Homo sapiens: one gene and its partners. The protein of the gene in region 5 purifies or fractionates together with the protein of the main gene of each other region. This does not show direct contact. Each region holds a gene or a part of one and is shown on either strand. Other genes may lie near its edges.

Region 1 (6,470 bases), on a different chromosome or scaffold from region 5:
TAATTAAGCAGCTTCTTGACAGCTCAGACATAAATTCTCAGGTATCTAGTGCCCAGTTGCCAACTGAGTGGTTATAGTTGTTCAACACAAGCTTTGAAAAGTGATGATTAAGATTGGACACTAGGAAAGAAGTAGAAAATACTTCCAGGTCCATAAAGTAATTATTGCACAAAATTCATGCATCAAAGTTAAGCACTTTATTGGCAGAAGAGTTCCAGCATTTTCCTCCTTCATGGCCTATGTTTTTTTTGAGACATGCTCTCACTCTATTGTCTAGGCTGGAGTACAGTGGCACAATCTTGTCTTAAAGTCATATCGTTCTTAAGATCTCAACCTCCACCTCCCAGGCTCAAGCAATCCTCCCACCTCAGCCTCCCTAGTAGCTGGGACTACAGGTGCATATAACCATGCCTGGCTAATTTTTGTATTTGTAGAGAGAAGGTTTTGCCGTGTCACCCAGGCTAGTCTTGAACTCCTGGGCCGCAGCAACCTGCCTGTCTCAGCCTCCCAAAGTGCTGGAATTACAAGCTTGAGCCACTATGCCTGGCCCTAATAACTCTTAGTTTGTTCAACAAATATTTATTGAATATCTTGCTCTACTCAAGAATTTTGGAGTAAAAACTCAAGGACTTGATTAGCTAATTTTCGGTTTTTGCATGTTAGCAGTAGCAGCTGAGTTACAGGAAAGTTGTTAGGGTTGGCCAAGGTAAAGAAAAGAGATAAATGAACCCCTGAGAAAGCTCGGGGGTACCCCAGTATACTGCAGCCCCCTACATTATTTTATTATGAAGTGCTGTAGTTGATGTTCATAATCATAAAACTTTACCTCCAATAGGGAGGGCCCTTGAGTGTTATCTAATTTAGTTTTCTTGTTTTGCAATAGATAAACTGACCCAGAAACATTGAGAACACATTAAATCATGTTCTATAGGTTGTTTGTGGGAAGTTAGCCAAGTGTATATTGCCTTTTAGAAAGCTTTCCATGCAAGCTAGTTGTAAAGTTTGGTACCTAAAAATTTTAGCTACTATTTTTCCTGCCTCTTCATTATGTAAAACACTTAATGATATGAAATAAATGAGCATTATCTCACGTAGATCTCTCCTCAGAGATTAAAGCCTATCACAATAAATATAATTACAATGAAAATATTTAAGAAAAATATAATCACGATTTAGCCATGTGACCTTGGGACTCTACTACCTGTTCTATGAAATGATAATGATAATTGTCCCTCCCTGTATGATGACTAGTTTTTTAAAAATTTTGGTAAAATACATAAAACACAAAGTATCATCTTAGTCATTTTTAAGTGTGCAATTCAGTAGTGTTAAGTACATTCACATTGTGTAACCATCACCACTGTCCACTTCTAGAAATTTGTTATCTTTTCAAACTGAAACTCCATACCCATTAAGCAAATTAATATCTTCTGTCTTTATGAATTTGACTATTTTAGGTACCTCATAAAGTGAAATACAGTGTTTGTGTGTGTGTGTGTGTGTGTGTGTGTGTGTGTGTGTGAGTGTGTGAGACTTCTGGCTCATTTCATTTAGCAAAATGTCTTCATTTCTTTTGAGTGTATATTCAGAAGTTGAATTGCTGGATCATATGATAATTCTATTTTTAGGTTTTTCAGGAACTGCTATACCATTTTTCATAGCAGCTATACCATTTTGCCTTCCTGCCAGCAGTATACAAGAGTTCCTATTTCTCTGCATTCTTTCCAGTGCTTTCTGTTTTTTTTCTTTTCCTCTTAATAGTAGCCATCCTACTGGATGTTAGGTGGTATCTCTTTGTGGGTTTGATTTGCATTTCCCTAATGATTAGTGAGTCGAACGTCTTTTCATGAGTTCATTGGCCATTTATCTTTTATCATGGCTTACTTTTGATATAACTAGTTTAGATAGAATGACTAGATTTTCACATATAATCACATATGTGAAAGTCCTGAGAATTATAATGTCTTATATAAGTGAAAGTAGTGACTATGGCTGTGTTAACATTTTTTCTGAAGTTAATAAAACTCCACTGAACAGTTAAAAGAGGCACAATTCGAGTTCTGTATAGGAAGTTATTTGTACAGTTGGAATTCGTTGTGCTCAAGATTTAAGACAATTTTGGAATACATGTGTATGTGGCTAGCATAAGGCCATAGCAGACAATACTCATGACATTGAGATAAGTAACCAAAAAGAGAACAAAATTGATTACATAAAAGGAAAAACTTCTGTATGACAAAATATTTTATAAGCCTTATTAAAAGACAGACTTGGAAATGCTGTTTAGCAGTGAATTTTAATAGTTACTGTCAGAATAATTTAAATGCTGAAAGTTTTATTTCTGATCTCATCTACTTTGTGGAAATGTACATCTAGGTGAACACATTTAAAAATTTTCGTATGTATTTGTCATATAAAATTCTTTTAGCATAAGGAAATATGTAAAAAATTACATTAGTTTCAAAAATATCTTTTTTAGATGGAAGAATATATCTTTGTTGGGACAAAATAATGCATCTCTTCAAGAATTATGGCCATAAGGAACATGTTCTTAAAGTAGATTGTTACCAATGGTAAAAAAATATTTACTAAAATGGTTACAAATGCAATGTTGATATTAGAAGTTTATGCAGTGTCATTATAAGTGAGTAGCCTAACTTCAAATGTTTTATTTTGTTCAGTCAGGTCAATTCAGTGAAGATATGATACCCACAGTGGGCTTCAACATGAGGAAGGTAACTAAAGGTAACGTCACAATAAAGGTAAGTTATTTCTTGCCGTACGCAATTTAAATTGTTAGCACAGACCCCTAGAAATTTTTCTGTTAAATTTCTGTGTTTTTACTGAAAATTTGCAGTTTTTCAGTAATGAATGTGCATGTTTCAAAAGAATAGGTTTTTTTGTTGTTGTTTTTTTGTTTTTTTTTTGGAAACAGAGTTTTGCTCTTTCACCCAGGCTGGAGTGCAGTGTCGCGATCTCCACTCACTGCAACCTCTACCTCCCGGTTCAAGTGATTCTCCTGCCTCAGCCTCCAAAATAGCTAAGATGACAGGCTTGTGCCACCACACCCAGCTAATTTTTTGTACTTTTAGTAGAGACAGGGTTTCACCATGTTGGTTAGGCTCGTCTCAACTCCTAACCTCAAATGATCTGCCTGCTACGGCCTCCCCAAAGTGCTGGGATTCCAGGCGTGAGCCACCACGCCTGGCCAAGAATAGATTTTTAATCTATTTTGTTTTTCAAAAATCAAATCTATGGCCTGAGCCTTAATGTCCATTTTGCCCAATTATTGTGGTTTACAGAAGCTGTTCACTTTCTCTGTGGCTCATCTAATGAAGTTCCAGATTTAGTCAAGTGCAGGTTTCTTTATGCTTGTTACCAGTGCTTTAGTTAAACCGGAAGCCTCTTGAAGATTAATACTGTGACTTGAGACTTTAATGTAGCCCAGTGTCTAGTGTGATGCCCTACGGAGTAGACACAATAATAAAATGATTATGGATGTGGCTTTCATGTGCATAAAATAATTTTATTTTATTTTATTTTTTTGAGATGGAGTTTCACTCTTGTTGCCCAGGCTTGGAGTGCAATGGTGTGATCTCGGCTCACTGCAACCTCCGACTCCCAGGTTCAAGTGGTTCTCCTGCCTCAGCCTCCCGAGTATATTACAGGCACCTGCCACCACACCTGGCTAATTTTTTGTATTTTTAGTAGAGATGAGGTTTCACTGTGTTGGCCAGGCTGGTCTCGAACTCCTGACCCCAAGTGATCCACCCGCCTCGGCCTCCCAAAGTGCTGGGATTATAGGTGTGAGCCACCATGCCTGACCAAAATAATTTTATACAAGAAAAACACCTATGTGGAAATGTTGGCTACTTATTTACAGGATAATTTCAAAAGGTTAGGCATTAATGTAGAACAAATCAGACGATTAAGACTTAATAGATTCTGAATTGTTGTTTTCTGTCTTGGCATTCAAATCTGGATGGTGCATGGTCCTGTAGCTTTTAAATTGTTATCATAAAGACATATGTTTTCAATAATAGAAGTATATTAGTTAACAGGCAAACTATTGCACATAAACCAAATCTTTGCTTAAGCAAAATTTTAGATGTATTGTAAATGTATTAAATACGGACTTCAAGTTTAGAAGTGGCCCCAAGAATTCCCATATTAAGAGCTTGTTTGAGGTCAAGTCTTTCAGGAGCACTTTGCCTCTAACATTGTAGAAATAAATATATCTTCCCGATCTTTCTTTTTTTCTGTTACTTCCTCTTGCAATCATTTAATTAAAATATCTTTATTAAGAATTGCCTTGTTTTGATTTAAAGATCTGGGACATAGGAGGACAACCCCGATTTCGAAGCATGTGGGAGCGGTATTGCAGAGGAGTCAATGCTATTGTGTAAGTGGTTTTTTTTTGTTTGTTTGCTTTTAAATCAATGTAGGCATCAAAGAAGAAAGTTTATTTTAGTATTTCCAGAGGCTCAATTTTTATCTCAGGCAGTGAAAATCTTTCTTAGCTAATATCCTAGTGTAATTCCCAACATGGGATTTAAAAAAAATTAATCATAGAATAAGATCTTTATGTTTTTTGTTTATGGAGCTAAGAGCTAAGGGGTGTACATGTTTTACTATCATGTATTAGTCTCTAAAAACAGTCTAGTTAAAAAGTATTAAAGGGTGCTGAGCCTTTTCTTATGACATAGTTTATTTTGGTTAATAATTTCAATAATGTAAATCTTACAAAAATTAAAAATCAATAATACTAGTTGTCATCATCAAGGCATACAGAGAAGGTATGTTGAGATCACTTCATTTTTTTAAGTTACATGATAGATGCTGCAGATCGTGAAAAGATAGAAGCTTCCCGAAATGAGCTACATAATCTTCTAGATAAACCACAGTTACAAGGAATTCCAGTAAGTATGGAATACTTGTTATTTTACATTGTAATTATATAATGATATTAATTATGGTAATTATGCAGTGATATTAATTATGTTTGAAATCAGTAACATGTCTTCATTTTTAAAATCTGGAAAACTTGCTTACCATGTATCTGCCATATACTGGGCATTGTGCTAAATATGAATCTCATAACCACGTATCTACTAAACTACTATGCAGCAGGAGCAGTGCGTAGGCCCAGGGATATAGTGATGAATGGAAATCAGTAGAAACATACTCCTTGCCATCATGGACCTTATGGTTTAGTGGGAAAGGTAGATACTCTGAAAACACTTGAATAATGCAGCTTTAAGTGCTAGGAAGAAAGGTGCAAGGGGATATGAGAGTTGTAATTTAGAGGGGAGATGTGATCTAGTTTGAGGGAAGAAGGAGGGATTCACGAGGAAGTAATGGTTGAGCTGAGATCCAAGGGATACATACAAATGTGAGGTATATGACAGTTGGAGGGGAAGAGAGTTCCAGGCAAAGGCCTTTGGGTGGGAGGAAGTGGGAAACTGAGAAGAGGCCAGTCTCTAGAATACATTTAGGAATTTGCATTTGGATTAGGAATGCTCAACCAGTAAGTATATAATGCAAATCCAAAAAATTTCCAAAATTCGAAACACTTCTGGTCCCAGGTATTTTGGATAAGGGATAGTAAACCTGTACTAAGAATAGCAGAATGCCGCCGGGCGCGGTGGCTCATGCCTGTAATCCCAGCACTTTGGGAGGCCGAGATGGGCGGATCACCAGGTCAGGAGATCGAGACCATCCTGGCTAACGCGGTGAAACCCCGTCTCTACTACAAAAAATCAGCTGGGCGTGGTGGTGGGCGCCTGTAGTCCCAGCTACGGCAGGAGAATGGCGTGAACCCGGGAGGCAGAGCTTGCAGTGAGCCCAGTGGCTGCTGCACTCCAGCCTGGGTGACAGAGCGAGACTCTGTCTCAAACAAACAAACAAACAAACAAACAAACAAAAAGAATAGCAGAATGTGTATCATAGACTCAGACTATTTTACATAGCAGTTGGCAGCCACATACTGAATTAAGAGCACCTGCATGGTGGGAGTTGAGTGAATACAAGTGTGAGCAATGAAATGAATGAGACAAGCCACCAGTTACACAAATAGGCCTTAACATTGTGGAATGTGTTAACATCTTAACTTTGTGTCTTCACATATCAAGATGATAAACTTCTGTGACTTTTTCTTGCATAAACGTGTGCTCTTAATATCTTTTCTTTTTAAAGGTGCTAGTGCTTGGAAACAAGAGAGATCTTCCTAATGCCTTGGATGAGAAACAGCTAATTGAAAAAATGTATGTCTTGAATATGCTATTTTAATAATTTGCTTCTAAATTACCATATTTTGCCCACTTGTTATGTTATTCCTAATGATCATAGCCATTTTTTTTAGGTAGATAAAAGTTGGCCTATCAGAGAAGTGAATCCTAACATTTTAGGATTGCTACGATGATTTCTTCAGTATAGTAATAAAACTAATGAGTAAAATTGAACAAAGTGAT
Region 2 (6,470 bases), on a different chromosome or scaffold from region 5:
ACTTTGCTGTTGGTCTGTCACTGTTTCTGGCTGCTTTCTGATTGCATTTTACATCAGCTTTCAAATGAGCTCAATTAGGAAGTACCTAATTCAGAGAAAAGCCTTCCAGGATTTTGCTTGCATTCATCACGCATAGAATGCTTTGGGAAAGACGATTCAAGAGCTCTCTTCCATTTGTATGTGTCTTCTGGCTCTTTCCACAAATAAGAAGCTATTTCTAGAACCTTTTATTTGATGATTAGATAAGATCAAGTGAGCTGATTTTTCAACTCTAGACTTGAGAGAAATGAAAAAATAAAAAGTTTTAAATGCGGTGATCGGGTATCATGTTTTAGTCGGCAGATTACTGTGAAGCTCTCTCCTTTTGTACTTTCCTTTACCCTGGGGGAGGAGGGAGTAGCATTATAAATCAGAAAAGCAAAGTACATGGATTGCATATCCTAAAGCAAAATAATTGAATTACATATTTTACATCATGGTCGTACCGCCTTCGAGGCTAGGAACTTTCTGTAAAAAGTATAATGCAGGGAACAAGGAGGACAGGTTAGAAACCTCTTTGGCAGAACTCCTTTGGCATGAAAAACAAAATTAGCACATTAGCACTAGCATCCAGTTCTTGTTCAGTAAGTAGCTGGAGTTTACTTTTTGAAAAAGAAACAGGGATTTCAGAATGTTCCATGTTGTGTGCTTGAAGCCATTCGTTATAGCATTTCATTCTGAAGACCAAATTTAAATTTCTTAAGATTTGTATGACCAATTAAAAACTTTTTTTATACTTAATGAGAGTAGTAGTACCCCTACTGGAGACACAAGATAGTTATGCTTCAGTTTTATAAGTAAAAGTACTATTCTCCAGATCGAATGGGATTTTCTGCATAGAGAGGTAGAAATAAAGTTATGACAATATCTTTTCTTTCGAGATGGGGGGTCTCGCTCTGTTGCACAGGCTGGAGTGCACTGGTGCGATCTCGGCTCACTGCAACCTCCGCCTCCCAGGCTCAAGCGAATCTGCCACCTTACCCTCCAAAGTAGCTGGGACCACAGGCGTGCACCACCATGCCCAGCTAATTTTTTGTAGTTTTTGGTTTCGCCAAAAGACGAAACGGGGTTTTGCCATGTTGCTCAGGCTGATCTCCAACCCCTGGGCTCAGGCTGTCCACCCGCCTGGGCCTCCTAAAGTGCTTGACAAAAATATCTTAAAATCATGGAGGACTTTTTCTTTTGAGATACTTTAGGTATCTCTCTGAGATGATCTCTTCTCATTTTGCATGATGGAGGATGTGGTAATGAAAAGGGAAAGACCGGGTGCAGTGACTGGCTGGGCGCAGTGGCTCACACCTGTAATCCCAGCACTTTGGGCGGCTTGAGACGGGTGGATCACTTGAGGTCAGGAGTTGGAGACCAGCCTGACCAACATGGTGAAACCCCTTCTCTACTAAAAATAGAAAAATTAGCTGGGCGTGGTGGCGGGCGCCTGTAATTCCAGCTACTTGGGAGGCTGAGGCAGGAGAATCGCTTGAACCTGGGAGGCAGAGGTTGCAGTGAGCCGAGATCGGCCACTGCACTCCAGCCTGGGTGAAAGAGCCAGACTCTGTCTCAAAAAAAAAAAAAAAAAAAAAAAGAAAAGGAATGAAAGGAGACAGTCTTCATAACAGTTGTGGCAAAACAAGCTGCTATGTGTCATACATGGAAAAATAAAGAAAATAGACAAAATTTAATTATTTTCCAAAATTTTCTCTAACAAAAATGGGAGATTTTAAAGTAATTCCATTTTTACTACTCCCTATCAAATGTCAGGAATTTTTATAAGGTGATATCTATATCTCTAGTTCACTTTTAGAGGTGATTGATGTCTTTATAACTGGTTAGAGGTTATCTTACTGGTATTTAACCAAACTCCTGTCTTGAGATACAATGCGTGGGGAATATTCAAGATTGAGTAATTTAAAGATATTCTTATTTTCAGAGGTTAACTCCTGTCTTTTTGTTTACAGTAACATGAAGACACAACAGAGTTCCATACTAATGTTATTTATTATTTCTTTAACTTGCAGAACTGCAAGGTGTGGAATATTTCTGGCTTCTAGTCCAATGCCAAGTGTGTGACCTGTGGTGAGTTACTTAATTTTTCTGGACCTCAGTTTTTCATCTTGTAAATGGAGTCCTTTACATGCATTATCCTGTTTAATACTCTCATCAACTCAAGCTAGGGTAGCTACCTAGAGAGGGACCTAAACAAATCTCAGTGCCTTCCTGCTGCTCTAAGATAGTGAAGAGAACAAGGTGAGCCCAAGAAGTAGGAGACCTGGTTTCTGGTCTCTGCTTCAAGCACTTAATTCTTTTTTTTTTTTTTTTTTTTTTTTTTTGAGAGGGAGTCTGGCTGTCGCCCACGCTGGAGTGCAGTGGCGGGATCTCGGCTCACTGCAGGCTCCGCCCCCCGGGGTTCATGCCATTCTCCTGCCTCAGCCTCCCGAGTAGCTGGGACTACAGGTGCCCACCACCTCGCCCAGCTAATTTTTTGTATTTTTAGTAGAGACGGGGTTTCACTGTGTTAGCCAGGATGGTCTTGATCTCCTGACCTCGTGATCCGCCTGCCTCGGCCTTCCAAAGTGTTAGGATTACAGGCGTGAGCCACCGCGCCTGGCCAAGCACTTAATTCTTAGTGGACCAAAGTTACTTGGCCTCTGAAGGCCTTAGCTGCCATTAAAATGAATTTAGGAATGTAAGTCTTTTGCTTAGAGGTTAGATCAAATGGACTTTTAATAAGGTGGTAAATTTGATAATATAACTCTGTCCCCTTTAGACATTTACTCCATTTAGAAATAGTACTTGTTGGTGGCAGGGACATGTGTTTCTGTGTAAGTGAACTGGTTTTATTATTACTCAGGGTGGGGGATCTTTAACATTATCTGGAAAATAAAAGTGGTTACAAGTTGAGGTGGTGGAAATTCAGGTTTTCTAAGAATGGGGGTCAGTTCACTAGGCATTTATCAAGCCTCTGCTGTGCTCTTGTACTCTGCTGAGAATGGAAGGCACAAAGATGAGTAAAACCTGGTTCCTTCATGGAGAAACTCCCAGTCTGCACGTTGGCAGGGTGTTAGTGGAGGAGGTAGGAGAAGCAGCCATACTGCCTCAACAGCGCTTTGCATTTTTGTTTGTTTTGTGAAGTATTTGTAAGCATAAAATAATGCATGTCATATATGTTAAGAAACAACAATAAAAGGACAGAAGCAGAATATCAGCCATGCTATTGAAATGTCTCCCTTTGTGCTCCTTCCAGATTGTTCCCTCTATTCCTACTGCCTCCACAATCATTACCCGCTATTTTGTGTTTGTGATTTGCTTTTCTTCATAGCTTTGTTACCACTGATGATTCTTAATCTCCAAATAATATATTTGTTATAGTTGTGTTTGAATTTTGTAAAAATGCATCATACTCTGAATTCTTCTGTGACTCAACACTTTTTAAGATTTAGTTACAATGATGCTTATAGATGGAGTTTATTTTTTACTGCTGTACAGTGTTCTGTTTTATGCATGTGCCACACTATCTGTTTTCTTATTGATGGATATTTGTTTTTTGTTTTTTTCCTATTTCAAATAATGCTGGAATGAACATTCTTATACGTGTATCTTGGTGCATATGTTCATGAGTTTCTCACTGCATTGGACTGTAAGATAGCCACTAGTCACCTAGGGCTACTTACATTAAAATTTATTAAAATAAAATATTAACTATTTCAGTTCTTCACTTGTATTAGTCACATTTCAAGTACTCAATAGCCACATATACCTACTGGCTACCATAGTGGACAGTGCAAATATATAGCATTTCCATTATCACAGAAAGTTCCAAGTTTCCAGATTTTACTCATCTTTGTATCTCCATTTATTAGTATAGTACAGGAGCACCATAGATGCTTAATAAGTTGGATAATGCTGGTCATATGCCCAGCAGTGAAATTACTGTGTGGGGAGGTATCCACATCTTCATCTTCACTGGAGAATGCCAACTTGTTTTGCCAAGTGCTTATGCCAGTTTATATTCCCACCAGCTGTCTATGAGGGCCCTGGCTGTTGTATATCCTTGACTTGGTATTGTTAGACTTTTCAATTCTTGCCAGTCTCGTTGGTGTCTTTTGAAGGCAGTCCACAGCTTAAGCAGACTGCAGAGAAGTCATTCTTCCAGCTTCACAAAGCCTAGCACCAGGTAGTGAAGAAGGCACCACCTTAGAGGGGATGATCCGGGGAAGGGTAGGAGTGTTTCCTGTGTTGGCTGAGGGGGTCAGAGGACCAAAGTCCAGCTAAAGTGGAGGAGAGAGAAAACAGCAAGGAGTGGATTCACGTTGTTGAAAACTTCTCTTTGCCTTCTATGACATTTCTGTCTTTGGTAGGAACATTTTTGATAATAAGGCAAGTCATTAAAATGAATCTTCTTTGTTACCAGAGTTAATTCTGCATTTTAGTTTTGGCCCTACATTTATTTAAAGCCTGAATTTGGGGAGTATCTGCAAAGCACTGAAGGTTTTGGACATTGTCTTTTCCTGCTGTTGAAAGAGACCCTCTTCATATATACAACATTCAGGTAATTGCTTCTAAGCTTACTTGAAAGGAAGCTTATCCCTATTTTAAATGAGATTAGAAGTCCTGCCTGAGTGTTATTTTGGTCTCAGTGCCTTTCAAACAAAGGGATAAGAATGAGTTGTTAGGCTGCTGTGTGCATAGTCGCATAGTCTTATCATAAGACAAAGTTTAGGAACTGAAGGTTGTCGTTTAGCATTCAACTCACTAGAGCTAGTAAAAAGAGATTTATCTCCCCACCGCCCTCCACCCATGCCCTCTCCAGAATTTAAAAGCAAATGCACACAAAAAAACTTCCTCCTATCAACCTCAAATCCCTTTCATGAAAGTTATGGCAGATGGTTGTGATGCTACTTTGCTGTAGTGCAGATTTGGCAGAATGCAGCTAGTGCTAATTGCAGTGAGGAAGACAGGAGTCACAATCCCATCCTCTTTTGGGAATTGTCCTGTCTGCTGAAATCTCAAAGAAGAGCACTAGGAGTAGGAGTAACATTGACTAAAGCAGCTGACATTTACTGGTCACTTACTACTACATGCCAGGCACCATGCTAAGCCCTTTTTACATGCATTTTCTCATTAATCCTCACAACACTCTAGCACCTTCTCCTGATTTTGGAGCTTAAGGTGGGTAAACATCTTTCCTCAGGTTTCACAGCTAACGTGGTTAATGTAGGGCTTGGATTTTAGTTCCTTTGACCCTTAAGCTCTGCTAAGATTATCTTGAATCTCTTACCAAGAATAGATGAGAAGGACTCAGGAAAGTGCCAGGTTGACATTGAGAGAAAGTTGTACTTCAAAAGTAGTCCTTCCTTTTGTTTTGTCATGGGGAAATAAGAGGCAGGAAATGCAGCCAAGCGGGGCTGGTGTAGGTGCTGAGGGAAGTGTAGTCCTATATTTTGCAGCGAATTTCATAATTGTGTATTTTGAAGGAAAATAAAAGATTCTGCTCTTCTAGGAGCAAGCAAGAGAGTGAATGAGGAAAAATGGGTGTAAGGACCTTGGAGATCAAAATGCCCAGCGATGCAGACCGTTGCTGAAACTAGACCTTTAAAGTCATGGACATCAGCAGCTACAAGATTTAGGGGTCCAACTGGAGTGTACTTTGAAGTGAAAGCTGTGCTAATGGCTGGCTTCTCTCCAATGTGTTGAACTTCTCTCCTGAAAGCTAGATGATTTTAGTTGCTTTTTTCTTTAGTTCCGGCAGAGCATTGTGATGACCTAGGCCGTATTTATAGTTAGGATTGATAGTTTATTTACAGATACACATCTTTTTTGTGGTTGCTATTTAATTCTCTTGGTGGGCAGTTTTTATTTGACCAATTGAAGATTCCATTACTGTAACTCAGTTGGAAGAATTTTTGAAGTTTTCTTGAACAATAGTCCTTTTTATTATCTTTTTTCATAAATTGTTTTTACTAGTCAGTCAGGGATGAGGCCATACTTCAGGCTGTTTACACAGGATTGTGCTTGGCCAAAGCACCCAGAACTCAGATGACTCTCAAGGACTGACTCGTGCCAGATAAACTACAAAAAAAGCTGATAGACCCAGGACGCCAAATTAATAATGAGAATTAGAAATCCTAATAAGACTGAGATGCTTTGGTTACCTGGTCACAGTATTCTATCCCTGTAGTAGAATCTGCCCTAGAAACCAAGTTATTTAAGGTTGCTTGCTAAGCAAGGCAATTGGTTGGGTGAATTTAGTGACAACTGTTATGGAATCTGATCCACCCATCCACTTTTAGGAAAGAATTACTTAGCGGGTCAGATAGCCAGGTTGACTGATCAGGGTCCCTGTTTTCTCTGGAGAGTGGTGCAGACACATTGGGAAGTCTGGCCTTTTGGTTATCTACTTTCTAAGCTCCTTACTATACAGCACAGCATAGTGT
Region 3 (6,148 bases), on a different chromosome or scaffold from region 5:
TAATGAACTTATATATATATATAAAATGAGTTTTTATATCATTATATACATATAAAATGAGTTTATATATCATTATATATTATATATATATATATAAAATGATCTATTCTACACATGACTGGCAGATTAATCATCTTAAAGCACAAGACCGGTATTATTATCCTCTTACATATATATATATATATATATATATATATATATATATATATATATATATATATGTTCTGTCCCTCTAAGAGAACCCCGACTAATACAGAGAGGGAATGAGGAAGCTAGGGAGGGAGAGCATTCCAGGCATAGAAAGCAGCATGTGCAAAGGCCCTGAGGCAAGAAAGAACTAGCAGAGTATAGGAGCGGATGAAAGCTGGAGCAGAGTTCAAGAAGTTGGAGGAGTGGGCATGGGCCAAGTCAAGCTGGGTCTTAAAGACCAAGGTAAAGAGTTTGGATGTTATTAAAAGTGAAATGGGAAGACAGTAAAGGGTAGTAACCAGGAAAGTGATGAAATTTGGAAAAACGTGAGGCAATGTGTGGACAGTGGTGGAAAGGAGCAGTAGTGATGATGGAGAGGCTGGTTTGGGGACTGCTGCAGTGGCCCTACTCAAGCAGGATTTGTGTGAATCTGCAGCCCAAGGTCAGGGTTAGAGAAATACATTTTGAATTTGTTTGCATAAAAATGGTTTTCCGATCATAAGGATGGATAAAATAAACTATGGAGTGGCTGGTAACACATTACCACAAACTTGTTGGCACACATTTCTTCTCTTACAGTTCTGGACCTCTGAAGTCCAAAATCAGTTTCAAGATATCTGCAAGGCCAACCTCTCTCTGGAGGCTCTAGAGGAAAATCCTTTCCCTTACCTTTCCCAGCTTCTGGAGATGCATTCCTTGCATTCCCTGGCCCATGGCCCTTTCCTCCATCTCCAAAGCCAGCAGCATGGCATCTTGTCTTGGTTGTCATATTGCCTTCTTCTGTAGCCAAATCTCCCACTGCCTCTCTTTCATAAGGACACTCATGATTACATATAGGGCCATTATGGATAATCCAGTATAAATTTCCTATCTTCAAGATCCTTAATCATACCTGCAAAGTCCCTTTTGCCACATAGGGTGACATTCACAGGTTCAGGGATTAGGACATGACATCTTTGGGGCAATATTCAGCCTACCACAGAGGGTAAAAAGCGAAAAAGGACCCAGTGTCAAGTTCTGAGGCATGCTAACATTTAGGTCAGACAGAAGAGAAGGAACTAGAAAAAGAGATTGAGAAGGAATAGTCATTGAGGAAGAAGGAAGGCTGGCAGAGAGTCATGTTGCAGAGCCAAGGGACTAGAGACTCCGAGTGTTCAGAAGGAAGGAGCTGTTTCTTGTTGCTGAGAGGTTGAGTAAGATAAAGATGGAGAAGAAGCCACTGGAAATGGCATCATGATTGGTGATCTCTACCACAGCAGATTGGGGTGTGGGGGCTGGGCACGCTGGATTGAAAGCCATCAGAATGGGCTGAGGAATGCATGGGGTGAGGTAGTACAGGCACCAAGTGTGAATACCTCTATGTTCTGCTATCAAAGGAAGAGAGAAACTGTGTCGGAGGGGGTTATAGAGTTAAATAAGACAGCACATTGCTTTCTGTTTTTAATGGCGGACATTGCTGATGGTTTCATAGAAAGATGCAGGAGGAAAAATGGATACCCAAGGGAATGAAGTCTTGAGAAAGCAAGAAGCAATGAGACCCAAAGTCAAATGAAGAGACTGTCCTGCTAGGAGCAGGGACACGTGTATTGTAATAGGAAGAAATATGTGTGTAAGTGAAGGCAGAGTTGATTTTCTCAAGAGTGAGGCTGAGAACAAGGAGTGTAGTTATGTTTGAGGAAACAATGTTTGAGAAGTCATATTATTTGTGGAGATACACTATTTTGTTTCATTTCCTCTAACAAGTGTCATTGGCATAGTCATAGCCCCTAAATATCTAAAAATTAATTCCACTTTAACCACCTCCCCTAGTTCAGTGATAGATAATTTTAAGTGAAAATAACCATGCAAATAGCCACCTTATGTGACACTTTATTAAAATGATAAATGATGCAATCAAACTACTTTGTGGTTTTGTTTTCATTAAAAAAATAAACTGAAAAGAAAAAAAAACAACTGAACAACTTGTCTTACTAAGGTGGGTAATAAATAAGGCATTTACCATAATTATGAAATTATGCAGCCTACACATGTATGAAAACTGTAGAACATGTACTATGAAATCACATTGTCAATGGTTAGCAGATTGAAATTCAAAATCTTTTGTGTATGCTGTTTGATATGACATTCAAGCAAACTATGAACAGAACTATTAGCATTTGCATCCCCTTTTATGTTAAGACTATAGCTTCTATCCAATTACCCATTTCCCCTCATGAAGATGAAGATGAGACAGTGTGAAAGGTCCCTCCACCAGAATATTTCTTAGGTCCTTGTCACTCACTTTGACATTCAAATTACCCACTGCTAAGGCAGGCATACCAGTATCACTCATCTAGCATTGGCATTGGAATCTCAGGGCATCTCGCCCAGAGCTAAAAGCAATTTCTCAGTCTTGTAATAAACAATGTTACTTTTATCAATCTTACACCTACTGTCTAAGCATAGGTATGGACAGTGTAGATTGCCTCATAATGGGTTGAGTTTAGTTGTTCAATAATTTTTTTGCATTTGAACCTTGGAAATTATTTATTAATTTTCAAAGCTGGTTTAATGGTTTAAGAGAATCTGCCACCAAGATTATCTTTTTCTCACCTTTCCTTTTCCTTTTTTCTCCTTCCATGAAGAGGTATGTCTTTAAAAGCCATAGAATCTAGGATATTTAGAGGTCCCTTCTCCTATCTAGTCACCTACATTGATAAATTCCTCCTGATGTTTCTCATACAATGAGAATGTTATAATTTCATAGAAGATGAGGACTTGTAAAGATTCCCTCTAACTGAATGAAAAATCAGACTCCAAATTCAAGCCCAGACTTGCCTCCTGCAAAGCTTCCCTCCCTGATAGAAAGCTTGCTCTAAACTCTCAGGGAGTCCCTGATTCATAAAGGGAGAGCCTAACATGTTCTTTTACAGATTTCAGCCCTCCCACAGTCTGCAGTAGAAATACAATTTCTCTACTTGATTTTTGAAAGTACAAACATTGCCACAGAAACATATTGTAAAAACATGTAACATGAAGTGAGTTGTAAACATTCAAGTATTTCTACAGGTTTGAATAAAAACAGCAGCAATTTTTTAAAAAACGTATAACTTTGCTTTTTAAAACAAGCACTGCACAGGCTATTTATATCAAAGAGGAAAAGGCCAGGAGAGCTGGTTAAAGCCTCCAAAAAATTTATTTGGTCTAATTCTATCAGCAGACACTGACTTAGACATTGCCAAGAACTCCTAAGAAAGATATTTTCCACAGAACCAAGGGATGCATGTTATGCAACAATGTTGAAAAAGTAGTGCCCTTCCAGTTAAATGTCTGAGGCACTCTAACTTTTTCTAGAAGCTGTTCACCTAGAAACTTTGGTGGTTAGCTAAGAAAGCACTGTTCAAGAATTATAAAAGATGGAATATAAAGATATCTTTCAGAGTGTCTCCTATTCAGTGAATCCAACCAAAGAATAGACTAAGAGTTGACATTCTCAGCCATGCCCATTCTCCTTTTTCTGTGTTTTATACCTGAGGATTATTCGCAGCCCATTTAAAAATAAATAAATAAAAGCAAATTGCTTTGGATGATGTTTGAGAGGATCAGAAGGCTGATCCAGGATACAGTGTCAACCTTCCTTGGTGAGTGATGCCTTGGTCCAGTTTCCCTGTTGGCTGCCATCTGGCCAGCTGTGGGACATCACCCTTTCCTGTTGAGGGAGACCAGATGGTTCACAGAGCATCCGTGGGGAGAGCACAGGACTGGACTTGCTGGTAATCTGTCTGCTTCATTGCAGAGCAGAGTCTGAGGGAGAGAATCACCGTGGTGATTAGAAGGAGGAGTCCAATGATGAAAAGGATGACCAAGGCTGCCTTGGCTCCTGTTGGACCCAGATTCTTGCCAAAGAAATAGAGCTGCTCTTTGCCAGGTCGTTCTGTGAAAAAGATAAACTTGTCAGGCCCCTGACATTTTTGAGGGGTGAAATGTTGACTCATTTACATGGGGAGAGGGTATCATTACCGTTAGATGGCACCGTGGCTGGGTGAGATGCCACTCCAGGAGATGTGGTGGAGTAAGGAATCCTGTTGTCTGCACAAAGAAAACAAGTTCATTGTTTTATTAACAACAGAAGGGGATTCTTTTCATGACACTAGTCATTTCATTTCACCAGCGAGGACTTATCCCATCAGTATCTGCCAATCATTTCTGGATTCTTACTGTGCTACTTCATTCCCATGTACATGCTTTCCTGCCCCAGCTGTCTTTCCCACTTCTGCTCACCCACTGAGTCTATCTGGAGCATCATGGCCTCTGTGAAACTTTGGCTCATATCCTCCAACTGTTACCCATTCACTCCTACTGCTGCTATTAAGCCCTGTACTCTGCATTCTGCTACGGCACATAGCATACTTGATTATAGTTACATATTTACATATATGTCTCTCTTACTTGACTCTGAGCTTGTTGAGGGCTATATCTGGGTTTTTGTCATGCCTCCTGTTTTGGGGGTCTACAGGAAGCTCGGTGCCATCATCTGGCATCACTGACAGACAACCGTACCTATGTTACGAAGGACCGTGTAGGTTGTCTCCATGCCAGCATGGATGTGGTCAGACACATGACAGTGTAGCAGCCATGTCCCTGGGTGATCTGCAAACAGTTCAATGGTTTGGAATGTCCCAGGAAAGAGATCATACACATCTTCTCGGTAAGATTTATCTATCTGCAAAAACGTTTTAAAAAACAACAGCTAGTAGCCTTCTTTGCTCAGAACAGCAAGAACAGAAAGAAGAGCAAAAACAAATAAAACCCACAGTAAGCAAAAGGAAGGACATAAGAAAGAGCAGGAATCAAGAATAGAAGTACAATAGAGATAAGTCAAAGAAATCTAAAACTGATTCTTTGAACAGATCAATAAAATCAATAAATTCTGTAGTAGCCAGCTTCCATGATGGCCCACAATGATCCCCACCTCCTGGTATTCATAACCTTTGTGGTTCCTACCTACATTGTATAAGGGTTGGTATGCGAAATCAATAGCATGTGGAAGAAGTGCTGGCATTCCAATTCCAAGATTAGGTTATCATTACTTCTGTGTTAGATACTCTGTCACCCTCTTCTCTTGGATTACTCACTGGAGGAAGCCAGTTTTCATGTCTTATCCACATGATCAGGAGCTGAACCCTCTAGTTAACAACCATATCAGTAAGTTTGGAAGTGGATCCTCCAGCTCCAGTCAAACCTTTGAAAACTGCAGCTCCAGTCGACATCTTGATTGCCTCCTCATGAAAGATTCTGAATCAACCAACTAGTTAAACTAATCCCAAATTCCTGATCCAAGAATTACTCTAAGTTTAGAGTAATTTGTTATGCAGCAATAGATAACTAATACAAATCTCTGGACAGACTAACCAAGGGAAAAGGGAAAAGGACACATTAAAAATACTGAGAATGAAAGTGAGGACATCACTAAAATCTTACAAATATTAAAAAGGAAATACTGGACAAACACCTCTTATCCAAAAATTGTACAACTTAGATGGTATGAACAAATCCCTTAAAAGACACAAACTCCTGAAGATTACTCAAGAATACATTGATAACCTGGATAGCACTATATCTATTAAAGAAACTGTAATTGCTTCAAGATATTCCAACAAATTAAACTCCAGATGGCTTTATTGGCAAATTCTACCAAACATTTAATGGAGAAATAATACCAATTGTAAACAAACTGTTCTGGAAAATAGAAGAGGAAAGAACAGTTCCAACTCATTTTATGAGGCCAGCATTACTGTGATACCAAAACTAAACAAATGCTTTGTGAGGAAAAAAAGCTACAATCAATACTCCTCATGAACATAGATACCATCATCCATAACAAAATACTAGCAAATCAATTCCACAAAAAGGAATAATACATCATGACCAAGTAAGGTTTATCCTGGGAATGAAAAAGTGTTTAAAAACTCCACAATCA
Region 4 (5,842 bases), on a different chromosome or scaffold from region 5:
GTGAGGAATTCAAGGAGATAGGAATCACGGCTGTAGCGACTGAAGGAAGGGAGGGAGGATGGAAGAGGGCTGGGGGATGGAAAGCCAAGGCGATATATCGCTGAGCTCCATAACTAAACTAGGTTGTGAGAAGTCTGAAGAGGGAGGGCAGGAAGGCCGGCTGCTTTCTAATGAGGTCTCCCTGGGATAATGGAGTAAAGCAAAGCCTTGAATTAAAGGGAAGGTAGATTCCAGAAAAGGCAGACAGTAGGCTTGTGGGAGCAGAAATAAGAAAGGGAGTCTCCTTGAGACCGAGCGCTTTCCTAACTTGTGTCGGATCAGCATCTGAAGGAGAGAAATGTTTTATGCTTAAGTTTTCGCAGATACTACGTGCTGTCTCGCCTTGAAACCTGGCCTGGCCCTGGGATTGGTGCCTTGTCAGTCACTGCTTTCATTCTATGTGGATCCTTTAGATTTGAAGTATCCAGAATGTTTATTTCAGTATTTATTGACTCTCGTTTAGGTACTTTGTATATGAATGGCTTTTTGCCCTTTCTGTCCTAGATTACCCTTTTGGATTCTGACCCTGGTCTGTAGTTACTTTAATACATGACATTTCAGAATTGCCCAGGAGTGGCTTCTTCCAGCATGCATGATAGAGGACTTTACTCTCTAGTGCTTAGCCCATAATGCAAGGATGGAATGTGCAGATAGAGTACTTGGTTTGCAGGATCTTTTGCCCACTTGAAGTGGTTATAGGCAAAACAGTTTGAGAATCATTTTCTAGTTTTCCTTATGTTTTCTTCTCAGACTAAAAGGCCAGAATATTCTCTGTGGACAGCATCCTGCTCAAACAGCATTGAAGAACTAAAAGAGTGTATGTGCTTTCATTGTTGAAGGAGTGAATTGAATGAGAAATTGTGGTCTCCTACTTGGGCTTTGAAATCTTATTGAGAAATTATGATTTCCAGATTCCAAGTTTGGCAAAGTCCAAACTGAAGAAAGAAAAGTGAATAGCAAAACATGAGAAACACTTGTCTATATAAGAACTATGTGAAATCATGTCTTTGGGGGAGAATGGAATTTAGGTCCTTCAGAATATGATAAAAGCAGGAAATTGTCAGTGCTGGAGAACTTAGTTACCTGAGGGAGCTTGGGCATGACTAGTACAGCATAAGGGCTGTCTGCTGTGGGGTTTTGGAGACATTCAATGCATTACCCAAGAGTCTTAGGGATTCTGAATGAAATCGCTCTTTACTCAGGGTATTCTTTTTTTTTTTTTTTTTTTTTTAAGAGATGGAGTCTCGTTCTATTGCCCAGGCTGCCGTGCAATGGTGCAATCTCGGCTCGCTGCAACCTCCGCCTCCTGGGTTCAAGCAATTCTCCTGCCTCATCCTCCCGAGTAGCTGGGATTACAGGCACATGCCACCATGCCTGGCTAATTTTTGTATTTTTAATAGAGACGGGGTTTCGCCATGTTGGCCAGGCTGGTCTTGAACTGCTGACCGCAAGTGATCCTCCTGCCTCGGCCTCCCAAAGGGCTGGGATTAGAGGCGTGAGCCACCACGCCTGGCCCTACTCCAGGTATTCTAATAGCAACAGGGACTGTTCATCTAGTGCCTACTGTGTACCAGGCACTGAACTAGGTTTTAATTTGTGTTAATCCTTACAGAACTTCGTTTTACACATGGGAAACTGAGGAGGAATGCAGTTTAAGTAACTTGCCCAAGTACACGTAACTATAACTGACAGGGCTGGAATTTGAACACAAATATGTCTGACTCCATATTCTTTCTGCTACACTTCTGTCTCCTTGACAACACTTAGTAGCAAAACTTTAGCATGCAAAATTTTTCTACTCACTAAACTTTTAATCGGTCCCTTCCACAATTTTTTTTTTTTTCGAGACAGAGTCTCGCTCTGTCACCCAGGCTGGAGTGCAGTGGCATGATCTCAGCTCACTGCAACCTATGCCTCCCAGGTTCAGGCGATTCTCCTGCCTCAGCCTCTGGAGTAGCTGGGACTACAGGCATAAGGCATGGTGCCACCACACCTGGCTAATTTTTTTTTTTTTTTTTGAGATAGAGTTTTGCTCTTGTAGCCCAGGCTGGAGTGCAGTGGCATGATCTCGGCTCACTGCAACCTCTGCCTCCCGGGTTCAAGTGATTCTTCTGCCTCAGCCTCCCAAGTAGCTGGGATTACAGGCATGTACCACCACGCCTGGCTAATTTTTGTATTTTTAGTAGAGACAGGTTTCGCCATGTTGGCCAGGCTGGTCTCGAACTCCTGACCTCAAGTGATCCGCTTGCCTCGGCCTCCCAAAGTGCTGGGATTATAGGTGTTAGCCACCATGCCCGGCCTAATTTTTGTATTTTTAGTAGAGATGGGGTTTCGCCATGTTGGCCAGGCTGGTCTCGAACTCCTGACCTCAAGTGATCCATCCACCTCAGTCTCCCAAAGTGCTGGGATTACAGGTGTGAGCCACCACGCCTGGCCTTGTTTATTCTTTTTTTTTTTTTTTTTTTGAGACAAAGTCTTGCTCTGTCACCCAGGCTGGAGGGCAGTGGCATGATCTCGGCTCACTGCAGCCTCCGCCTCCTGGGTTCAAGCGATTCTCCTGCCTCACCTTCCTGAGTAGTTGGGATTACAAGCACCTGGCTAATTTTTGTGTTTTTAGTAGAGACAGGGTTTCACCATGTTGGCCAGGCTGGTCTCGAACTCCTGACCTCAAGTGATCTGCCTGCCTCGCCTCCCAAAGTGCTGGGATTACAGGCGTGAGCCACCGCATCCAGCCCTTATTTATTCTTTTAAATAAATAATGGTTTAGTAATCTTACTTTATATGAATCTCACTCCATTTCAACCTATTGACATTCCTTGGACCTTGACGATCCTGGATGGAGTTTAATGTACAATTGGCCAGTTATTTGGCTTTTGATGGCCTATTTGAGAACTGGATCCTGAAAAGACAATTTCCAGTGTCAAGGAGTACAAAGCATGATGTAGTGGGTTCTGTGTGAAGCTCTAATGGAGTTTCGAGTTGCTCTTTTCCTGCCAAGAGGCAGTTGTGGAGAAAGGAGATAACTAGTTTATTTTATTCATCCTCTCACCTGAATTGACTGGCAGTAAATATGGTCAGTATTAATACATGTGGTTGGCCATTTCTATTTAGAACTTGTAGACAGGAGTGAAGATCAGGGTTTTCTGTCAGGGGATTCGTGTTGCCACTAGAGCCTTGGGAATCTTCTCAGTGTTTAAAATGTGGGAATGAGCTGATTTATATCAGGGAGCAAGCTATGGTAAGCCAACTTTTGTAATGGTGATTTCTTATGCATTTTCTAGATGAGGAGAGGATAAACAGACACATAGAGTCTCTATTAATCAATTGAGCATTTATTGAGTAACTTGCATATTCTGCATTTTAGAAGATGCAGAAGTAGTCATAGTTTCTGATCTTAATGAGATTAGTTAGTTAGACAAGGCAAACATGATGCATAAAACAATAGTGTATCAGGCAATGCTAAAGTATAACTGTCAGAAGAGTTCAGAGAGGAGGAAAACCAATAAATCCAGTTGTTGTTGTCAGAAAATTTTTTTGTTTGAAGTGAGAGTTGAGTGAGCACTGGTAGAATGGAGAGGATTTGGACAGGAAGAGCAGAGGTAGGCATACCTTGGATGTGTTTATCTCTTTACAGGGAATTTAAATTCACTTTTTAAAGGAAAATGTAATATGTACACATGATAAATTCAAATTGTACAATGAAAAATGTGACTATTCCACCCATTCCAGTTGTCTTCTCTTACTCTCGAAAGTCAATCACCATTACCAGTATATTTTCATAAATACTTTATTAATCAGTATAAATATATACATATACATCCCTTTTTAAAACACAAATAGAGGCAAGCTATATATATATACTGTTCTATACCTTGATTTTACTACTTAATATCTTTCCATACTGGCACATAGAGATCTTTCATTTTTATTTCGAGAGACAGAGTCTCTGTGCCAGATTACAGTAGCATAATCACAGTTCACCATAGCCTTGACCTCCTGGGCTCAGGTGATCCTCCTGAGTAGCTGGGACCACAAGCGAGCACTGCCACTACACCTGGCTTTTTTACTTTTTGTAGAGATGGAATCTTGCTATGGTTGCCCAGGCTGCTCTCAAACTCCTGGGCTCAGGTGATCCCTTGCCTCGGCATCCCAAAGTGCTGGGATTATAGGTGTGAGCCACTGCACCTGGCTTTCACATTCTTTTCATAGTTATTTAATATTCTACTATACAGGTATACCATAATTCATTGTAACCTATTGTCTATTCATAGACATTTATTATTATTATAAATAATAAAATGCAGTGAAACTCTTTTTTTTTTTTTTGAGACAGAATCTCACTCTGTCTCTCAGGATGGAGTGCAGTGGTGTGATCTTGGCTCACTGCAACCTCCGCCTCCTGGATTCAAGTGATCCTTTTGCCTCAGCCTCACAAGTTGCTGAGATTACAAGTGTGTGCCGCCACACCTGGCTAATTTTTGTATTTTTAGTAGAGACAGGGTTTCACCATGTTGGCCAGGCTGGTCTTGAACTCTTGACCTCAAGTGATCTGCCTGCCTTGGCCTCCAAAAGTGCTGGGATTACAGGCGTGAGCCACCAAGCCTGGTGAAAACTCTTATATGTACATATTTACATACTACTGCAAGTCTACTTGTAGGATAAATTCAAAGCAGCAAGGGACTTCTGATCATCAGCTATGATAAGGTTGGATGTGGTAAGGGTTGGTTTTTACCTGGTGGTGATTTGAAGGGGTTATAGGAGCATGATCCATAGGAGCTATTTCTTCATTGGGACCTGTCCAAGTTACTCAGACAGGTGGCTACCACAGGCTGAACATTACCATCTTTCTTCTTTAATTTTTCCTTCCATGTAGACAAACCTACCTATCTTCAAGCTAAAGGAGTCCTGCGTACGGCGGCGCTACAGTGACTTTGAGTGGCTGAAAAATGAGCTGGAGAGAGATAGCAAGGTATGGCTTTGTTCTCTGTGTGGCATCTTTGGAGGAGGAGCTCTGCATAGGCTGAGTGGGCATACAACCACAGTCTATAAAGTCTTGAAGGGAATGAAGAGGGTGAACACATTCTTATCCATCAAATCTCAGTATTTTAGATCGGGGGGATACCTTTTGAAACTTGAAAGTGGTAAGTTCTGGCTGGGCACAGTGGCTCACGCCTGTAATCCCAGCACTTTGGGAGGCTGAGGCGGGCGGATCACCTGATGTCAGGAGTTCAAGACCAGCCTGGCCAACATGGTGAAACCCCGCCTGTACTAAAAATACAAGAATCAGCCAGGTGTGGTGGTGGATGCCTGTAATCCCAGCTACTTGGGAGGCTGAGGCATGGGAATTGCTTGAACCTGGGAGGCAGAGGTTGCAGTTAGCTGAGATCGTGCCACTGCACTCCAGCCTGGATGACAGAGCAAGACTCTGTCTCAAAAAAAAAAAAAAAAAAAAAAGAAAGTGGTAAGTTCAGGACAAGTTTTTTTTTTAAAGTATTACTTCACTTAGTCGCTAGTAAAGTTGTACAACTTAATTCCTGTAGGTGCTAAAAATGGAAAGTCTAGTGTCAGGAAAATCCTAGCTAAATTCTTGAATGGTAGTGGCTTGTTAAGGAAAGTGAGGATTATTTGGAGTTTATTTCCTTCTTTTGAGGTGGTAAACCTGTCTTCCCACAGAAACGGATTAATTTTTGACCTGAGCCATCCTGACTGTTCTTATGGTCTTAGTTCTTGCAAGTTGCTGGCTGTGGGACAGGATGGACCCTATGCCTAATAAGAAATGAGGTACACGGTGCTTTACCATCTC
Region 5 (6,470 bases):
TTTTCTGTGTGTCCTTTTCCCTCCTATAAAGACATCTGGGGCTGGCCCTGCCTCTGTGGCGTTCTCCACGCCTACATCCCATTGCTGGCCTGAGGTGATAGACCTTTCTGGACAAATGGCTTTCGCTGTCACAATTCTGGCATTGCAGATGGAGAATTGACTGACTTTCTTGACAGTCATGTGCAACTGGGGAGAAATGGTGAATGAGGAGTTCTTAGGGAGCCATGATGAGTGCTCTTGAGAGGCCCTGTAGAAAAAGATAAAAGAATGGTTTGAGTTTTCTGGGATGCTTGTACATATTTCAGCAGTCCTAGATCACCTAGGACTGACCTCATCAATGGTTTTGATCCTGGATCTAGAAAGGCTGGTGGATAGTTTAGAAATGAAGGAACAGGGCCGGGCGCCATGGCTCACGCCTGTAATCCCAGCACTTTGGGAGGCCAAGGCGGGCAGATCACCTGAGGTCGGGAGTTCGAAACCAGCCTGACCAACATGGAGAAACCCCTTCTCTACTAAAAATACAAAATTAGCCAGGCGCGATGGTGCATGCCTATAATCCCAGCTACTCAGGAGGTTGAGGCAGGTGAATCGCTTGAACCCAGGAGGCGGAGGTGGCGGTAAGCCGAGATTGCACCATTGCACTCTAGCCTAGACAACAACAGCAAAACTACATCTCAAAAAAAGAAAAAAAAAAAGAAAGAAGGAAAAGATGAAGGAACAGGAGTTCTGCAGCCACTCAAAGCCTCACGTGCACACACATTCTGTCTCTCTTCTCGTCATTCCTCCACCCCCAGCGGTTACCTATGGTTATAGTTAATCACCACCCAAGTGCAACTTCAAGCAACGCTGGAACCAAAGTGTTCCATGGTCACAAATGTTTGACCTGAAATTACAAGATTAATAACTAGTCTAGTATTTAAAGGAGAATCTGTAATGGTGCTAATGTTTCTAGTGGGACTTTGTTCTCAGAGAACTCTTTTTATGCCAGATGTGCCAGGTAATCACGTGTTTTAACTTCGAGCCTTGAAGTCTCTCTGTGTGTAATATGTGTATACACTGTATTCTCTTGGGGTACATTGTTTTCCTGGAAAAAAACTGTACCTCGGCTTCCACCGGCAGTGTCAGGGGGGTGGGGGAGGGCTCTCTGAAGCGGAAAGACATCTACCTTTTCAGTCTGATCTGAGTAGATGCTAGGATTAAAGACCCAGGAAAGGAGAGGTGTTGAAATCCATTTTTCTTTTTCTCCATTCTAACCAGTTTCCTGCTTTCCATTGCTTTCCATTATTAGAAGAAAATATAGAAATTAAGGTTGTGAACAGAGGTAGAGAAATGGAAAGATATGGAATTTTTTTTCCCTTTTTTTTTTTTTTGAGACAGAGCCTCACTCTGTCACCCTGGCTGGAGGGAGGGCAGTGGCGTGATTACAGCTCCCTGCAGCCTCAACGATCCTCCCACCTCAGCCTCCCAAGTAGCTGGTATAGTGTAGGTGTGTGCCACCACCCCAGCTAATTTTCTAAAATTTTTTGTGGAGATGGGGTCTCCCTGTGTTGGCCAGGCTGGTCTCAAACTCCTAGCCTTGGGGTTACAGGCATGAGCCGTCACGCCTGGCCAAGTTGTGGGATTAGAATGATCATATAGAAATAGCTTGGAAAGGAAAGAACAATTAAAGCTGTCTGGGGCTTGATACAAGTCAAGGCAAAAATTAGTGTTTTATTAGGTTGTATCTATTAAGATTAAGCTAGCAAAGAGATGGTATAGGGAGAATTACCATAGAAAGATACTTGAATTTCATGAGTTAATTTTTTTTTAATTTGCTCTAAAACAGTGTTTTTCAACCTTGGCACTATTAATGTTTTACAGCAGACAGTTCTTTCTTGTGGGGGCTGTTCTGGGTTTGTGGGATGTTTAGTGGCGTCCCTGGTCTCCACCTACTAGATGCCAGTGGGACCTCTCAATTGTGACAACCTAAAATGTCTCCAGACAGTGCCAAACACCCCCCTGGAGGGCAAAATCGTCCCTGAGAACTGCTGGTTTTAGAACCTTTCCCTAATACGAAGTGTGGTTTGAGGACCAGGAGCATCAGCAATATCTGGGAGAGGGTTAGGAATTCAGGATCCCAGGCCCCACCCCCTCCCCAGGCCTGCTGAGTCGGAATTTCCATCTACAAGGTCCTCGGGAGGCTCCTCTGTGCAGTACTTTATTTTTTATTTTATTTTATTTTATTTTATTTTTATTTTTATTCGAGACGGTTTCTCTCTTGTCGCTCTGGCTGGAGTGCAGTGGTGCAATCTCAGCTTACTACGACCTCCACCTCCCAGGTTCAAGCAATTCTCCTGCCTCAGCCTCCCGAGTAGCTGGGATTACAGGCACATGCCACCACGTCCAGCTAATTTTTGTATTTTTAGTAGAGACAGGGTTTTACCATGTTGGCCAGGCTGGTCTCGAACTCCTGACCTCAGGTGATCCACCCACCTCAGCCTCCCAAAGTGCTGGGATTACAGGCGTGAGCCACCACGCCAGGCCTCCTCTGTGCCGTTTTTCAGGAGCAGGAGAGAGTTCGGTTGAATTTACATGAATAAAGATACAGTGAAAGGTAGCTATTCTCAAAAATTGGATTAAAATGGGGCCATTTTGATGATGCATTTAAGAAGGAAGGGGGCAGTCTTGTGTTTGGCTCAGGCCTCTTCACCACATGAACCTGCCACCCCTTGGTAACTGTCCTGCAGCTCACAGGAAAACTGTGAGAAGACAATGGCTGCTACGCAGGGAGCATCTGCCTTCTAGAAAGTGGTTTTCAACCAGGCAGAAACGGTCTTCTGTGACCCACTAAGATCATGTCTCACATGGGTGAATAAAATCAGAATTCTTTGAACTGATTAACCCAGCACTGGCCCATGTATTAGATAATTAGTGGCTCCCAGCATTTCTGGGAGAGGGTTAAGTAGGGATGTCATCCTTGCTCTGAAAACCACAAATTACCACTGACTTCTGATGATGTGTGATCTCCTTTGCCGCAAAGAAGATCATATTAAAGAGACCCAAGTCATTTAGGGGCAGCTTTAACAATATCCACTGAGTATGTGCAGACTGCTTTATCCAGATTGGGCAGGGAGTTCTGTCGATGACACTGCCTGCAGCAGTGACATTTATAGAAAGTCCATGGCAGGAGAGAGAATAGAATCCAGGGCCCATCTCTCCTTTCGCCTGTAACTACAGGTTTAATTTTACCGGCTAGAAAGTAACTATCGTGGTGCTATTGGAAACTGTTAACATAGGTGGACTGCTAATTGAAGTTATTTGTTGTTCCCCTCATGGGTCATGGACAGAGCTGTAAATTGATAGAGGTGGCCGTCCTCCACACCACGGCCCTGCCTGGCAAAGGCCTGCTCTCATCAATGTGTGGTTTCCAAAGTCACCCTGTCCATCTCCATTCCAGCCAGCTGGAAGGGGAAACCAAGTGGGAATGTGTGCCCAAGTTTTACAACCAAACATCCAAAATGGTACGTGTCGCTTCTCCCACATTCCATAAGGCTAGAACTCAGCCCCGCAACCTAGTTTAACTGCAGGGGAGGCTGGGAGATGTCATCTAGTTGTAACCCAGCGAGAAAACTACTGGACAACTAGATTTCTGCACAAGAGATCTCCAGAGCTCCATTAGAGATTATCATGTGTGTTCATCCCATTTCTAAAGATGCCAAAGTGCACTGGCACTTAAGGTTCACTTACATGGCTGGGTTTTTGAGGTTGATGGCTGCCTTTATCTTCCAGTATGATTACTGCCCAGGAAAACACTCTGTTGCATGAACTAAAGGACTGTTTTATAGTGACCAAAAAAAGTGGGGAGGGGGTATCTCTCGAGGGCTTTTCCTAGGAATCCCAAATTTCTAGCTATCCTGAATCTTGTAGAACTCCTACACGCAGACTGTGAAATCATTACTATCAGGGGCTTACTAAATAATAAATATGATCTATTACCTTGAGCTAATTTCATAGAAACGTACGGCTGTTATGTGTTTTTTTAAAGAGCTGCAGAGGTCTTCCGTGATTCTCTAGTCTATGTGTTCCTTGTCTAGATTGAGTAATGAAATTGTGAAGTGTAATTGCTGCCTAACACAGCCAAGCTCTCCCGTGGCTGATTGTCTTGCTTTGCTTTCTTAGGGTTTAAATGCGGTATTTGACATCTTGGTGATAGGCAAATTCAATGTTCTGGAAATTGTCCAGAAGGTACTACATAAGGACAAGTCATTAGAGGTGAGTCTGTACTTTTATCTCCAGCCCAGACATGGAAAATGTCAAGTACCAGCTGATTTAAAATGCCATTCTCAAATATTCCTTGTGATTTTGAATTCTACAATAACCAGCCTTTTAAAGCACAGTGTTGAAGCAGTTCAGGCAGAATTGCTGCACATCTGTACCTGGCTCAGCCACACTTTTATGTGAAAATCAGCCACCTCTGGGGCTTTGCGATGTCCTTGCAGAATCTCGGCATGCTCAGGAACGGGGGCCTCCTCTTCAGAATGACCCTGCTCACCTCTGGAGGGGCTGGGATGCTCTACGTGCGCTGGAGGATCATGGGCACGGGCCCGCCGGCCTTCACCGAGGTGGACAACCCGGCCTCCTTTGCTGACAGCATGCTGGTGAGGGTGAGTTCTGAGCCTGCCGCCCCCTGGACTCTTTTCTTCCCCCACCAGATTCCCAGATCCCTCACCCCTCCTCCTCGTCTCACTCCTCTGCACGCCAACAAAATCCCCAATACACGCGCCACCTCCATGTTTGCTTGCGATCACTAAAGATGTTCTGGGATGAAAGCAGGTCTTCCTGAGGGGGTTGAAAGGGCATGCAGAAGCTCCTTGCATTTCCGTTCTAACAAGGAGTAAAGAGGGTGGTTCCTTCTCACATCAGGGTCCTTGCCAGTCCCGTGAAAGGGCTCCCTAACCCTGTGGCTGGGTTAAGGCTAAATATAACCTTCTTGGTGGTATCTTTAGAAGACTAGTGGTGTCAAGACTATTCTTTTAGATTTGCCTTTTTTCTAAAGGCAAGGGTATCAAGCCACAGATTCTTAGCTGTGCATTTCATAGAGACCAAAATCAAGAGAACAGCCATCGAAGCCTGTTATGTTATTGGGTGTATAGGTGACCCTGGGTCCTCAGATTTAGAGGTCACAGGCTTCAGGCAGCAAATAGATCATAGCTTTGCCAGAAATATAACGAATGTATTGCATAGTCTGATGGCTTTGCCATATTTTTATATACCAAAATCTGAATACATTTAATACATTTTTACAGACTATAGTCACATACCCAATACACGTTGGCAACATTTTATTTGATACAACTGCTTTCATTGAGCAGAAGCATATGAGTGCCTCCAAAGTGAAGTTAGTGCGTATATATGTGTTTTTTAAGTTCAGTATCAAATAGATGTTTGTTCTCCTTTTGACTGGCAGGCCGTAAACTACAATTACTACTATTCATTGAATGCCTGGCTGCTGCTGTGTCCCTGGTGGCTGTGTTTTGATTGGTCAATGGGCTGCATCCCCCTCATTAAGTCCATCAGCGACTGGAGGGTAATTGCACTTGCAGCACTCTGGTTCTGCCTAATTGGCCTGATATGCCAAGCCCTGTGCTCTGAAGACGGCCACAAGAGAAGGTAAGAGGCAGCACTGAATCTTAAGTTCCACGCTGGTTGAGTCAGAAGCGTTTTGTGAAATCCTGCGCTGATCATTTTTATGATTTTGTGGAAGTCACGTCTAAGGACATTTGTTTCAAATGCATATTTATGGCTAGGATGAGTTCCATCCATTTGGAATCCATGGCTGGCTTCCGCGGGTGGGGAGCGAGGCTGGAAGAGGAGCTACGGATGACTGCTTCATCCCTCCCTTCCCCTTTCCCTAGGAAGTAGCATTTTGCGATCCTTTTCACCATAGGTGGTAAAGAGTAATTTACGGTCAGAACAGAGAGTGTAATTGATGTGTGTTGTGCCCATTATTGCACAATTCTTCCTCAAAACACCCTGGTGAACGCTGCCATGATTCCCTCTGTTGTAGCTGGGTACAAAATAAGCCATTGCCCCAAAGAGACTGTTCTTTCTTGATGGAAAAAAAAGTTATTGAGAAAATAATTGGGGAAAACAAATGTGTTTCATGAAAAAGAAAACTGTTTAAGGTGATTTCCTTTAAGCCTAAGTGTTTATGGAATTAGATTAGTAATGTCTCAAAATAAATTAAGTTTTAAGTTTACCTGTGTGTTGAATTGGTTAGTAATTCTAAGGAGCCACAAACTTTAGTCCCAGTTCCCTTATCCACAGAAAATGGGATTTTTATAGAAATACTGTAGCCACAGGGCCCAAGAAGGAGCCACCAAAATTGACCTAGAGTCTTAATTCATCCTCTTGCATCATAGGGGACATTGGGAATGATCAGGTGGTTCCAGAAGTGTTTCAATGCTCAGCTTCGTATCTCCCTGACTGAA

What was found.
Region 1: the proteins of TMTC4 (region 5) and ARL8B purify together in Homo sapiens (affinity purification with mass spectrometry; one large-scale study listed by BioGRID and IntAct). This does not show direct contact.
Region 2: the proteins of TMTC4 (region 5) and HERC3 purify together in Homo sapiens (affinity purification with mass spectrometry, with the first as the bait; one large-scale study listed by BioGRID). This does not show direct contact.
Region 3: the proteins of TMTC4 (region 5) and HEPHL1 purify together in Homo sapiens (affinity purification with mass spectrometry; one large-scale study listed by BioGRID and IntAct). This does not show direct contact.
Region 4: the proteins of TMTC4 (region 5) and SNX12 purify together in Homo sapiens (affinity purification with mass spectrometry; one large-scale study listed by BioGRID and IntAct). This does not show direct contact.

Annotation. Positions count from the first base shown.
Region 1 is NC_000003.12:5,167,822-5,174,291, forward strand, and holds part of ARL8B (ADP-ribosylation factor-like protein 8B), read left to right. Parts: intron 1-2,681; coding exon 2,682-2,762; intron 2,763-4,328; coding exon 4,329-4,402; intron 4,403-4,825; coding exon 4,826-4,919; intron 4,920-6,195; coding exon 6,196-6,263; intron 6,264-6,470. UniProt on the Homo sapiens protein: Small GTPase which cycles between active GTP-bound and inactive GDP-bound states.
Region 2 is NC_000004.12:88,593,503-88,599,972, forward strand, and holds part of HERC3 (probable E3 ubiquitin-protein ligase HERC3), read left to right. Parts: intron 1-2,054; 5' UTR 2,055-2,112; intron 2,113-4,447; exon of another isoform or gene 4,448-4,585; intron 4,586-6,470. UniProt on the Homo sapiens protein: E3 ubiquitin-protein ligase which accepts ubiquitin from an E2 ubiquitin-conjugating enzyme in the form of a thioester and then directly transfers the ubiquitin to targeted substrates.
Region 3 is NC_000011.10:94,109,646-94,115,793, reverse strand, and holds the end of HEPHL1 (ferroxidase HEPHL1 precursor), read right to left. Parts: intron 4,892-6,148; coding exon 4,729-4,891; intron 4,258-4,728; coding exon 4,189-4,257; intron 4,103-4,188; coding exon 3,900-4,102; 3' UTR 1,586-3,899; downstream 1-1,585. UniProt on the Homo sapiens protein: Is a copper-binding glycoprotein with ferroxidase activity. It oxidizes Fe(2+) to Fe(3+) without releasing radical oxygen species. May be involved in the regulation of intracellular iron content.
Region 4 is NC_000023.11:71,062,020-71,067,861, reverse strand, and holds part of SNX12 (sorting nexin-12), read left to right. Parts: intron 1-794; exon of another isoform or gene 795-856; intron 857-3,150; exon of another isoform or gene 3,151-3,274; coding exon of another isoform or gene 3,275-3,277; intron 3,278-4,912; coding exon 4,913-5,008; intron 5,009-5,842. UniProt on the Homo sapiens protein: May be involved in several stages of intracellular trafficking.
Region 5 is NC_000013.11:100,635,711-100,642,180, reverse strand, and holds part of TMTC4 (protein O-mannosyl-transferase TMTC4), read left to right. Parts: intron 1-3,326; coding exon of another isoform or gene 3,327-3,500; intron 3,501-4,158; coding exon 4,159-4,251; intron 4,252-4,478; coding exon 4,479-4,643; intron 4,644-5,446; coding exon 5,447-5,649; intron 5,650-6,470. UniProt on the Homo sapiens protein: Transfers mannosyl residues to the hydroxyl group of serine or threonine residues.